Linked DNA regions of Homo sapiens: region 2 is linked to region 1. The links come from fine-mapping of genetic effects on gene expression. A gene starts in region 1. The other region holds a variant in brackets. All regions are shown on one strand. Distances are between the middles of the regions.

Region 1 (5,377 bases):
CCCTTCCTGTGTCCAAGTGTTTTCATTGTTCAATTCCCAACAAACGGTGCTGGGAAACCTGGCTAGCCATATGTAGAAAGCTGAAACTGGATCCCTTCCTTACACCTTATACAAAAATTAATTCAAGATGGATTAAAAACTTAAATGTTAGACCTAAAACCATAAAAACCCTAGAAGAAAACCTAGGCAATACCATTCAGGACATAGGCATGGGCAAGGACTTCATGTCTAAAACACCAAAAGCAATGGCAACAAAAGCCAAAATTGACAAATGGGATCTAATTAAACTAAAGAGCTTCTGCAGAGCAAAAGAAACTACCATCAGAGTGAACAGGCAACTTACAGAATCCAAGAAGTCCTTTATCTGATAAAAATTACCCCCGACTCAGCTTCCACTGTTTTAACAAAGTATCTTGACCCTTAACAAATCTCAGAAATAGCTCTTTGCTCCCTGAAAAACCTATTTCCTTTATATTTTAAACAGTACCAACTTGGTTTAAAGTTTTCAGCTTGTCCTCTGATGCATTTGTTCACCTCATTGTACTAAAACACAAAGAAACTGTCTCGTATAAAAATCAGAAGGAAGTTTAGAAATCAGAAAGAAGTTTAGAAAAGTTTAGAAATCAGAAGGAAGTTTAGAAAAAAATTATGGAACACATGAAAAAAAAAACAAGAATAAACTAAAGGGCACTGCTGAATAGACAGACAACAGCAACAGTAAGGGGGCTCTGGTCCCCCTTACTAACTCTGCCAAGATGACAGTTGTTTGAATTCTCCAACCCTTCTTCTGCTCCTCTGTCAAAGGAGGATTTCGCATAGGGTTCGCAGGCTAGCGATCTAATAGGTAAAGCACCTGGCACGCAGCTGGAAGGCTATCTGGGGTCTGTCTGCTTCTGCTAGCATCAATACTCTGAGCTCAACTCCACCGGGGCTCCTAGGATAACCGGGACAGAAAGGACGGTGAGAAAAGAAAAATGAGTAACATCACACAAGTTGAATCATATGAGGTTGACGATATTCACATCTTCCATCCAAAAAACCGACAATTTCTTATGATTCAACCCAACATATCGCAGCGGTTGTTCGTGTCGCATGAGTCTCGGGGGGCACTCAAGAACTACGATCGTGCACTTGCTTTCTTAACAAAGAACAGCTGCCGCCCTCAGGAACTCCAGCAAACCTTTCTCCAGAAAGGTCAGTCGCCTTAGCGGGCTCCAGGAGCAACCTGTTGCAGAATGAAGCCTGGGGCGCCGGCTTCCCCGCCCTTTACCTCCAAACCACCTCCAGGCCAAGCCCCCTCCAGGCCTAGCTCCCTTCTGGGCGGAAGCCTCTCGCGAGCTGCGGGACACAAAAGAATGAGCGGCGGGGCGGGCGCGGGAAGCCAAGAGACTCCAGGAATTCGCAGCCGCGCAGGGGAGGGGGTTGCCGGAGTAACTTGGCTGCTCTGAGCGCGTCGGCGCCAGTTCCCCGCCGCGGCCCCTGTTGGGCACCGATCGGGGGCGATCTTGCCAGAGAGAAGGGGTTCTGGAGCTAGTTCCTCCCTCCGATCCGACTCCCTGCCCCTCCAGACACGGGCTTTCGGGGAAACTGATCCCGAGCCTCTGACTTTCTACAGCCGTGAAGCTCCTGGTCTGTCCACGCTCCTCTTTGTTGTCCGGTCGGCGTGTTCTGGCAGGGTGCGCCTTGAGCACCCCAGTTCTCCATCTAGCGATAGCCGCGGGTCCCCGCGCATGCAAGCAGAAGGGCCGTGGAGCGAGAGGCTGGGAAGGTGCTTCAAGCCAGGGGTGCATGCTTTCTCCCACGGACGCGGGGAGATGGCCTCGCTTTGTACCCCCATATCCCTACTCCCGCTGTGGTCGGCTGCACAGTGTTGGCCCATTTCCGCACTCAGCCAGGGAAGCTCAGCGCCTCACGTCCCCGGGGCCATCCCTAGAGTTTCCTTTACCGCAGACTCGTTCCCAAGACCCTGGCGAGTCTCACCTCGGTCACCGTTCTCCCCGAGAGCGAGTCCGAAGTCTCTGGGGCCCCGGTCCAGTTCGCACACTCACCTCCGACTCCCGCTCCGGAACCACGGCCGCCGGCTACCCCCACCCCCGCCCCCATCCCCAGTGGATGGAAAGAAGACCCAAGCGGGGCGTCGCGGGCCACCACTCAGACTAAAAAGTTTGGGTTGGACGGGCACCGGCACCACCACGCTCTCCCCGCAGTTCCTCTGGCCCCCAGCCGCTGTCCGGGCCCGCACCACCTGCTGAGGGGCCAGGGAGGCGGCGCAGATGGCTAGGGTAAGGGGGGCGCAGAGCGAACCCGTCCACTCCTCACTGTACACCCCCAGTACAGTGGAAGGAGTGCGCTCAGCCCCGCGCCTGGTCAGCAGATGCCTCTCTCGCTCCGGGATGAGGACCCAGCTACTCACCGTGCACCCGGCTCCCGCTCCTGCTCCCGCCCTAGTCACCGCTGCCGCCGCCCTTCCCTTAGCTCGCCAGACCCTGGCTCGTGAATTATTTATGACCCGGCTTCTGGGACCACCGCGACGGCTTTCGGAGAGCCCGCCTCCCACTGCCGGCCGCGGAGGGGCTCAGGCGGCGCTGCGGCCGGACCCTCGGACGTGGCGGGAGGCAGGAGAAAGGCCCGGGTGCCCGGGGGGACCCGTTGCGGCTTCCTCTGTCCCGGACGGGGACCTAGGTATGGGGCCGCCGTAATGGAAAGGATTCCTTAAACATACTCACCGCGGCGGGAGAGCTGAGAGCATGGCCAGGTGCCGCGTGGGGATCTGCCTCAGTCACTTAAAGATCGCGAAACCCGAGCCCTGGACGCACTCTGATTGGACCGGCTGAGCTGCTTCGCCACGTAGCCCTGGGGCGCCCACCAGCACCTGGACAGCATCCATTTCCTGTAGAGGTGCCTGCTCAACCCCCTGCACTCCCTTCTTGCAACGCTTGCGCCTCTTTTCCCCCCGCAGAGTCCCTTACTTAGAATGCAGCTACCCTCCTAAAAACTCTCCTGTCTCATCCCGGCCGCATTAGACCCTTCTGTTGCCTAATCCCAATGCAATTTAAAACAAAACAAAACAAAACAAAACAAAACAAAAAACAAAAAAACAATCATTTGGATCCTTAGTGTGCAGCAGTACCAATGCTAGTGGCTGAAGCGGTTGAAAAACAGCATAAAGCCATATTCGCTCCCATGTGTACACACAGGCATCTGCTATAACGTGAAGCCACTGCAACTTCTTTTCTCACTGCCTATTGGTCTTCCCGCTCTGTGAGTTACAACTCAACCTCGGAGTCTTCACCTTGCTACTTAGCTGAGTGGTGGAAACCTGTCAGAAGTAATCACTCGGTGTCTAAGTGTCCTCACCAATTTGCACTTCACTCTTATTCACCACTTCTTATCTTGAATTGAGAATACTGTACTCTCCGGCAGGCAAAAAAAAGACTTAGGGAAGAAATGCACCTTCAGGATGGTGTCTAGCATACAGCAGGTGTTTAATACATGTTTGTGATATGGATAGACAGATGAAAGGATGGATGCACAAGCTACAAATGAATGATAGACAGGAACATTAAGTCAGTACCTTTTTCTTTTTACCCCAGAATCTAACATAAAACAGGTACTGGAAAATAAGCATTTTTTGTTTTTAATAGTTAGATTGATCTTGAGTGTGTATATTTCTAGACAAGAAATGTTAGTTCAGAAAACTTCCAAAAAGTACAGTAGGACATGGCAAGGTTAGATGGTTTGGCTCTGTGTCCCCATCCAAATCTCATATTGAATTATAATTCACTGGGAGAGGGACCTAGTGGGAGGTGATTGGATTATGAGGGCGGATTTCTCCCTTGCTGTTCTCATGATAGTGAGTGAGTTCTCAGGATATCTGATGATTTAAAAGTGTGTGGCACTTCCCCTTTGCTCGCTCTGTCTCTCCTTCTGCCATGTGAAGATGTGCTTGCTTTCCCTTCTTCCACCATAATTGTAAGTTTCCTGAAGCCTCTCTGGCCATGCCTACGGTACAGCCTCTGAAACCCAGTCTCAGGTAGTTCTTTATAGCAATGTGAGATCAAACTAATATGGGTGGAAAACAAATCTCTTCTAATCAGGGCAGATTTCCCCTCTGCAGCCCCTGCAGGTCAGAAGTTTCTGGTTGAACATCTGCTGGGGTCCCATAAACCTTCTCCTAGATAGCACTTTTAGGCTGGAGCTAGCAAAAGAGGTGATTTCTCAAAGGAGTGGGTCCTGATCTCCGTCAAAGTTTGGTCCCGCCTCTTTTAATCGCTGTGACTTTGGCTGCTTAATATTTCTCTGAGCCTCAGTTTCCTGGTCTGCAAAATGAAGACAATTATAACTCACAGGGCTCATTTTCATTCCTAATAATATCAACAACAATAGTATCAGTAGAAAGGGGTGAAGCAAGATGGTCAAATAGAAGGTTTGACCACCCACCCCCCACCCCGGCTAGGAACACAATTTAACTGCTATCTACACACACAAAAAGCACCTTTATAAGAACCAAAAATCAGGTGAGTAACCACAATACCTGGTTTTAATTTCATATTACTGAAAGAGGCACTGAAGAAGCCAGGAAAGACAGTTTTGATTTGCCAATGCCGCCAGTCCTCCATCCCCCAGCAGCAGCAGCCTTGTGGCTTGGGAAAGGGAGAGTGCAGTGATTGGGAGACTTTGAATTGAACTCAGTACTGCTCTGTCATAGCAGAAAGCAAAACTAGGCTGAACTCAGCCAATTTCCCTCAGAGGAAATAGCCCATACCAGTGGTGAAAACTTGAGTTTCAGTAAAGTGCTCTGGGGCCCCAAATAACCTTAAAGGCAGCCTAGGCCACAAGGACAGCAACTCCTAAGCAAGCCCAAATGCTGAGCTCAGAGCCAGTAGACTTGGAGGGCATGCGACTTACTGAGACACCAGACAGGGGAGCTAAGGGAGTGCTTGTGACACCCCTACCCCAACCCCAGGTAGTGCTGTTAGTGGCTCTTCATCACTGCATGCCCTTTTCTAGCACTCATGCCTCTTTTACCCCAGCAGAGCTCTCTACTTGGAATGCAGCTACCCTCCTAAAAATGCTCCTCTCTCAAAAACTCTCAGCCACATTAGACCCTTCTGTTGCCTAATCCCAATGCAGTTAAAAAAACAAAACAAAAATAATCATTTGGATCCTTAGTGTCTGCATCAGTCCCAATGCTAGTGGCTGGAGTGATTAAAAACAGCACGAAGAGACCCATTCCTTCTGCTTGAAGAGAAGAGGGGGAAGAGTAAAGAGGACTTTGTTATCTTGAATATCAGTTTAGCCACAGTAGGACAGGGCATCAGTCTGAGTCATCAGACCCCCATCCCAGGTCCTAACTTGTGGATAACATTTCTAGACA
Region 2 (5,377 bases), 54 kb before region 1:
TTTCCTAAAAAGAGGTGGAAACTACTTCTTTGTTAACTTTGTATAATGCAGTCTTGTCTACACCGGGTGCTCCAGGAAGGTGAGTTTAGGGGTCAAGCTTTGGTTTCATTTGGGCTATTTAGAAGACTGGCCGTATGTCTAAGTGTGAGTCAGAAACTGTCTTTGTGCCTTTATTGAATAAATGTCCTTACTCACAAGATCATCAGTCAGTGAAATGAATTGCAATACATTTCACTACAACACTCGATTTCAATGCTACATATTTTAGACCTACATTTCTACTAATCGATAATAGATCTAATTAAAATTAAAGCATTGATAATTTTTTAAAAAAACTGTACTAAGCTGGGTGTGGTGGCACACGCCTGTAATCCTAGCTACTTGGGACACCGACATGGGATAATCACTTGAGCCCAGGAGTTCCAAGTCCAGCATGGGCAATATAGCAAGACCCCATTATTAAAGAGAAAAAGAAAAAAAATCTCTACTAAGTATAATTATAGAGTAGAAGTTAGTGATTTTCAAAGCTGATTTTCAAACTAATGCACAAAGTAAATTTTGTATTTAAATTCTAATGCCTGTGTAAGCAGGCAGAAAGCATTAAAGAAAAATTGGGTAGCAGGGGGTCATGGGAGCTGGGAGATCAAAAATGGGCTGGAGGAGCAGCTAAATCTGCAGGTCTCAAAAGCACCACCATGATGGCAGATAAATATTACCGTATCTTCCCATTATCCACAAAAATCTGGGAATCTGGATTCTTATGTGAAATATCCCAATTTTTAAATATTAGCAACTAACAAAAAAAATTTAAATACTATGCAGACCAACTGATGGTCTCCATGTGCAATCTCAAATTTAAACCTTCTATTCAAACACAAATAAAGAACAAAGAAATTATGCTTTGAGGTATTGATTTAGACACTCCCTGTTGTTCAGTGTATTTTTTAGCAAAAAAAAGGTATGTGAATAAATATTTTTATTTGAACAACCTCCAGTCAATTATTAGAATACAATGATACCAAGAGACATTTACCTAACACAAAAAGGAAATCATATTTCAGTGAATATCAGTTCTCTGGCATTTGACATAAATGCCTTTAAACAATCTAAAACATATGCTTTTAAGCAGTACAACAAAATCTCTTAGAATTTTTAGCAGAAGATAGGAATTTTTATTTTTATGGCCTTACATCTTCCATATTTTATTATGGAAAAAACAATTTTCTCACATATACACTTACAAGCTTTTTACAGAGTAAGGCTAAACCTTACTTTTAAACCTTTACTTTAAAACTTGTAACTGTATTGCTCTTACCAATTTCTACTGATTTAATAAAATTAGCCAAAGAAAGCCAAACAAATGCTTTCAGTCTATAACAGCTCTCTTATTAAAAAACAGAAAAATTACATTTAAACTGTAAGTAACCAGACCTCATTCACATGAAGAAAGTTTCATGATTTTCAGGACTGCTACATCTAGCTCAATCTTTTTTCCACAACCTTGTAGCCTCCCATTCAGGAATTGGCAATCACGTCCTAGTATAAAATGAACTTTGAAAATAGCCAGCTTCCTGAAAATGACTGGAATTCAATTCACCATGGGAATTATTAGCAAGACTGGCTTATCATACTCAGAAACTTAGAAACATACAAAGGAAGTCAAGTCATGGTTTTTTTTTTTCCTTCCATAACCTTTATGAGAAATGCAGCGGTGACAAGCAAAAAGAAAGAAAGGAGAAGAAAGTTGGCTTTTTCTGGAGTAAGACACATCTGCTTAACAGTCTACAGTGAGGGGTGGAAATTCGATCTTGTGCTGATGGTCAAACAGACTGCATAAACATATGTCAGTGTCTACGGAATTCTCACATTCCACAGCTGCCTCTGGGAACCCTCAGAGAAAGAACATGCCCACGTAGATTGCACATCTGCTAGGGCATCTTTCTCCTTAACACCTATGTCTTCCCTTCACCCCCTAAAGAAAAGATTTACATTTTTTAAAATAAAAAAGGATGCTCAAAACTAACTTGAAAACCAACTGCATTTAATTGTAATATTTTGAGCCACAAAATGAAATTGAGTCCAATAAAAGGCAGGTGGACTGCTCTGGGTTTCTGAAAGAATTTTTTAAAAATCA[C/T]ATGCAAAGATTATTTCTCAATAGTGTCCCATCTCCGCTGAAGTCAATGTCAGCTAGAGGCCCTGCATTAAACAAGAGAGAGTCCACTCTCCTATCTTTCCCTCCACTTCCTTTCTTTCCCTTTCTGCCTTCCAATTTTGTTGACATTCTTGTCCTTCTTATTTTTATCTAATCTTCTGATTTTGTTGACATTCTTTCTTCTCCTGTCTAACTACTCATAATAGAGAAATCTTAACTTTCCCCAGGTCTTTAATCCTCCTGCCTAGCTTGGATTACTTGCAAACAATATGTAGGTATTATGCAACTCATGATGTTTAAGGTATTTGCAAACCAGTGGGGGTTTCAAAAGGAAGCCATTAAAATAGCTACCGTAAATCAAAAAGTTCAAGGCAAAGAAGCTTAAATTCTCATCAGAATTTAAAGTGAGAAAAAAAAATTCACACACTACTCTTATTTAAGCCTATTTATAATTTATACATAAATTCAATGTGCTATATGAAATCAAATTAGTTTTAGTTTTGTCACAATCTCAGTTGATCAATTTTGGTTTAATTATATTGAAATCTAAAATTACAATTTTCACATTAATGTTTTACTTGGGTGGGGAAAAAAATTGTTTTAACTGAATGTGTAGGAGGGTATAGAATCACAGCATGCATTTTTAAAAAGAATTTTCTAAATTAAAATATACTTAGAAAAAACATATATTGATTTGATAGGTCTGAGTTCTCAAGAATTAACAAAACGGTAGCTTTCATTTTATATATAAATGGAAGCCAAGTTTATTTTTTACTTTGTAGCTTTATTGTTGATATATTTTGGCATTTTCAACATAATGTAAATAACTCAATCAGCTGAGAGTGAACTATAACATGCATAACACATAACTATATGTAATGCAAATAAAAGTTCAATTTTGAAAAAGAAACCCATTGTAGTGGCTAGGCACGGTGGCTCACACCTGTAATCCTAGCACTTTGGGAGGTCGAGGAGGGCAGATCATTTGAGGCCAGGAGTTTGAGACCAGCCTGGCCAACATGGTGAAACCCCGTCTCTACTAAAAATACAAAAATCTGCCGGGCCTGGTGGCGCATGCTTGTAATCCCAGCTACTAGGAAGGCTGAGGCACAAGAATGACTTGAACCCGGGAGGCGGAGGTTGGAGTGAGCTGTGATAGCGCCACTGCACTCCAACCTGGGTGACACAGCGAGATTCTGTCTCAAAAAAACAAAGAAACCCAATATATTGGAAACCGATTATTACACATGTAAACACTTATTCAGGTAAATAAATAACTACATTCAATAAAGAATTTTCCTGAAATTATACTATATGTATTGACATCAAGTGAAAATTATTAACTTGTTAAATAAGTAATCATTCTAACTAGAAGCCCTAAGGGCAATATTTTCAGATGATGCTTTCACATCCGAGTCTCATCTTTGAGGTCCAGGGTGTATGGAGCGGGTAAACATGGCTGTGCAAGTGTCTAGACAAATGTGGCGTGTAAGTTTCAGGCTTACAGGAAACACACCAGGGATCCCTGGTGGGTTTGACAGGTTTCAGGGCTGTAACCGAGATTCTTCTGGTAGCTGAAAAAGAGGTAACTACCCCTATAACTAGGAGTCTGTGCATTCCTTAGAGTATATCAAATACAAAGCAGAGAGAGACAGGGACATTTGGAATGACCACTACTGACCTGATCCCAAACTGCCTCTCAAAATCAAATGTGAAAAAAATAGCAAGGATCAAATGATTTTTGGAGACACAGAGAAAGAGACAGACAGTGACAGAAAAATACAGAGAGGCAAGGAGAGACAGAAAAGGGAAGAAAAGAGAGAGAGAGAGGGAGAGAGAGATTGACAGGCAGAGATGCCCACACCCCAATGTCATGGAGACAAAACAAGTAACTCTCAGGCTAACCAACAATGCATGAAGTCAGCTAACACATTCACTTGGATCTTGTTTACACACATATATAGTTAAGGTCGATTATTCCACTATTATGAGCAAAAGTATGTCTTTGCTTAAATAGTCACTGCCCTGGAGTAAGTGGTAATGCATTGGCCTTTGTCTGTTGTGAAGATTTTTTTTGTCACTGTTCAAGTTTCAGTTAAGTTAATTCAATAGGTAATACCCGAGCCTGGTACATAATCAAAAGAGACAAAAAGCCCAGCTACAGCAAGAAATGAGTTTCCTTCCTTCCCCTCCACAACCCTCAATTTCCTTTCCAGAGGCAACCACTGTTGCCAGTTTCTTGTCAACCCTTTCACATCCCATCTGCTCTATAAAAATATGACCCAGTGCTTGTGTCTCCTTCCTGATCTTTTTTTTTTTTAACATAGTTACCATGTTCTACACATGGTCTGCAACCTGCTTTTTCACTTCATCTGTCATGGTGACTGGTATCAACAAATCCAGAGCTGCCCAGTCCTCTTCAATGGGTACACTGCATTCCAATGAGTGGTCACCCTAAGCCATACACATCTTATCAGACCCCTGCTGGTGGCCACACTTAAAGGCTTTCCTTCTTGGGTTTGCAGCTAGAACTCCAACTCACAGGACTTACTGTTTTCTGTTAAAATTCCTGAATATCACTTCCTTAGTAAAACTTGAAAAAAATCTTACGGCTACTGAGCACGTGTGGTGTTTGGAGAAACAACAAAGAGAATGCTGTTGGCCAACCCTTGCTGTGCCTTCATGTCATAGGCACATTGATTTCTGCTGCTGCATGAAACAGTGGCGGAATGAATGAGGAAATGTGGAACAATAACCAAGCAACATAACAAGGGAACACTGCTGTGGCGCACTCATCTTCAGATGAGCAATCTAATTTGGACTCGAAAAAACGTCATCTTAAAAGCAATGTATTTCTGATCTGCCAGTCAACTGGAAAACTTTTGAAAGCAGCAGACACTGCAGCAGAAATACCCTAAATCGTGAAGTGTGTTCCAGACTTAAGGGAGGGTAGCGGATTAACAGCACATAAAAGAAAAATGAGTTTATTATTAGAAAGTCAATTGCATTCTACAATATTTTCAAATTTCCAAATTCAGGGACTGCATCAGTCCATCAAGATTCCTTTGGACTCAACTAGCAAATCAACTTGCAGATCCATCTCTCTTTTCTGCATGCTGCCTGCCTGCAAATAGCTAATTAAGAGGAGTCTGCTGTGCTGGGAGGTAAGTCCTTTCTGCAGTCCAAGATTTCTCAGGATACCTTCAAGAGGAAAAAAATACCAAA

Direction of the effects. Positions count from the first base shown, and alleles are read on the strand shown. Sizes are in standard deviations (SD) of each study's normalised expression.
In carriers of allele C in region 2, the expression in left ventricle of the gene that starts at base 2,772 in region 1 tends to be higher than with T alone (small effect, 0.40 SD a copy in GTEx).

Evidence for each region.
Region 2: its variant is fine-mapped to the expression of PROM1 in left ventricle (GTEx, PIP 0.94).

What each region holds. Positions count from the first base shown.
Region 1 is chr4:16,081,252-16,086,628 of GRCh38, forward strand. It overlaps PROM1 (prominin 1), which reads right to left and starts at 2,772. Exons shown (of 28, transcript NM_006017.3): 1 at 2,727-2,772.
Region 2 is chr4:16,027,691-16,033,067 of GRCh38, forward strand. All of the region lies in intron 5 of PROM1 (prominin 1), which reads right to left. Among named protein-coding and RNA genes, the nearest start is that of PROM1, 54 kb to the right of the region's middle. The variant C/T (reference allele first, on the strand shown) is at 2,135.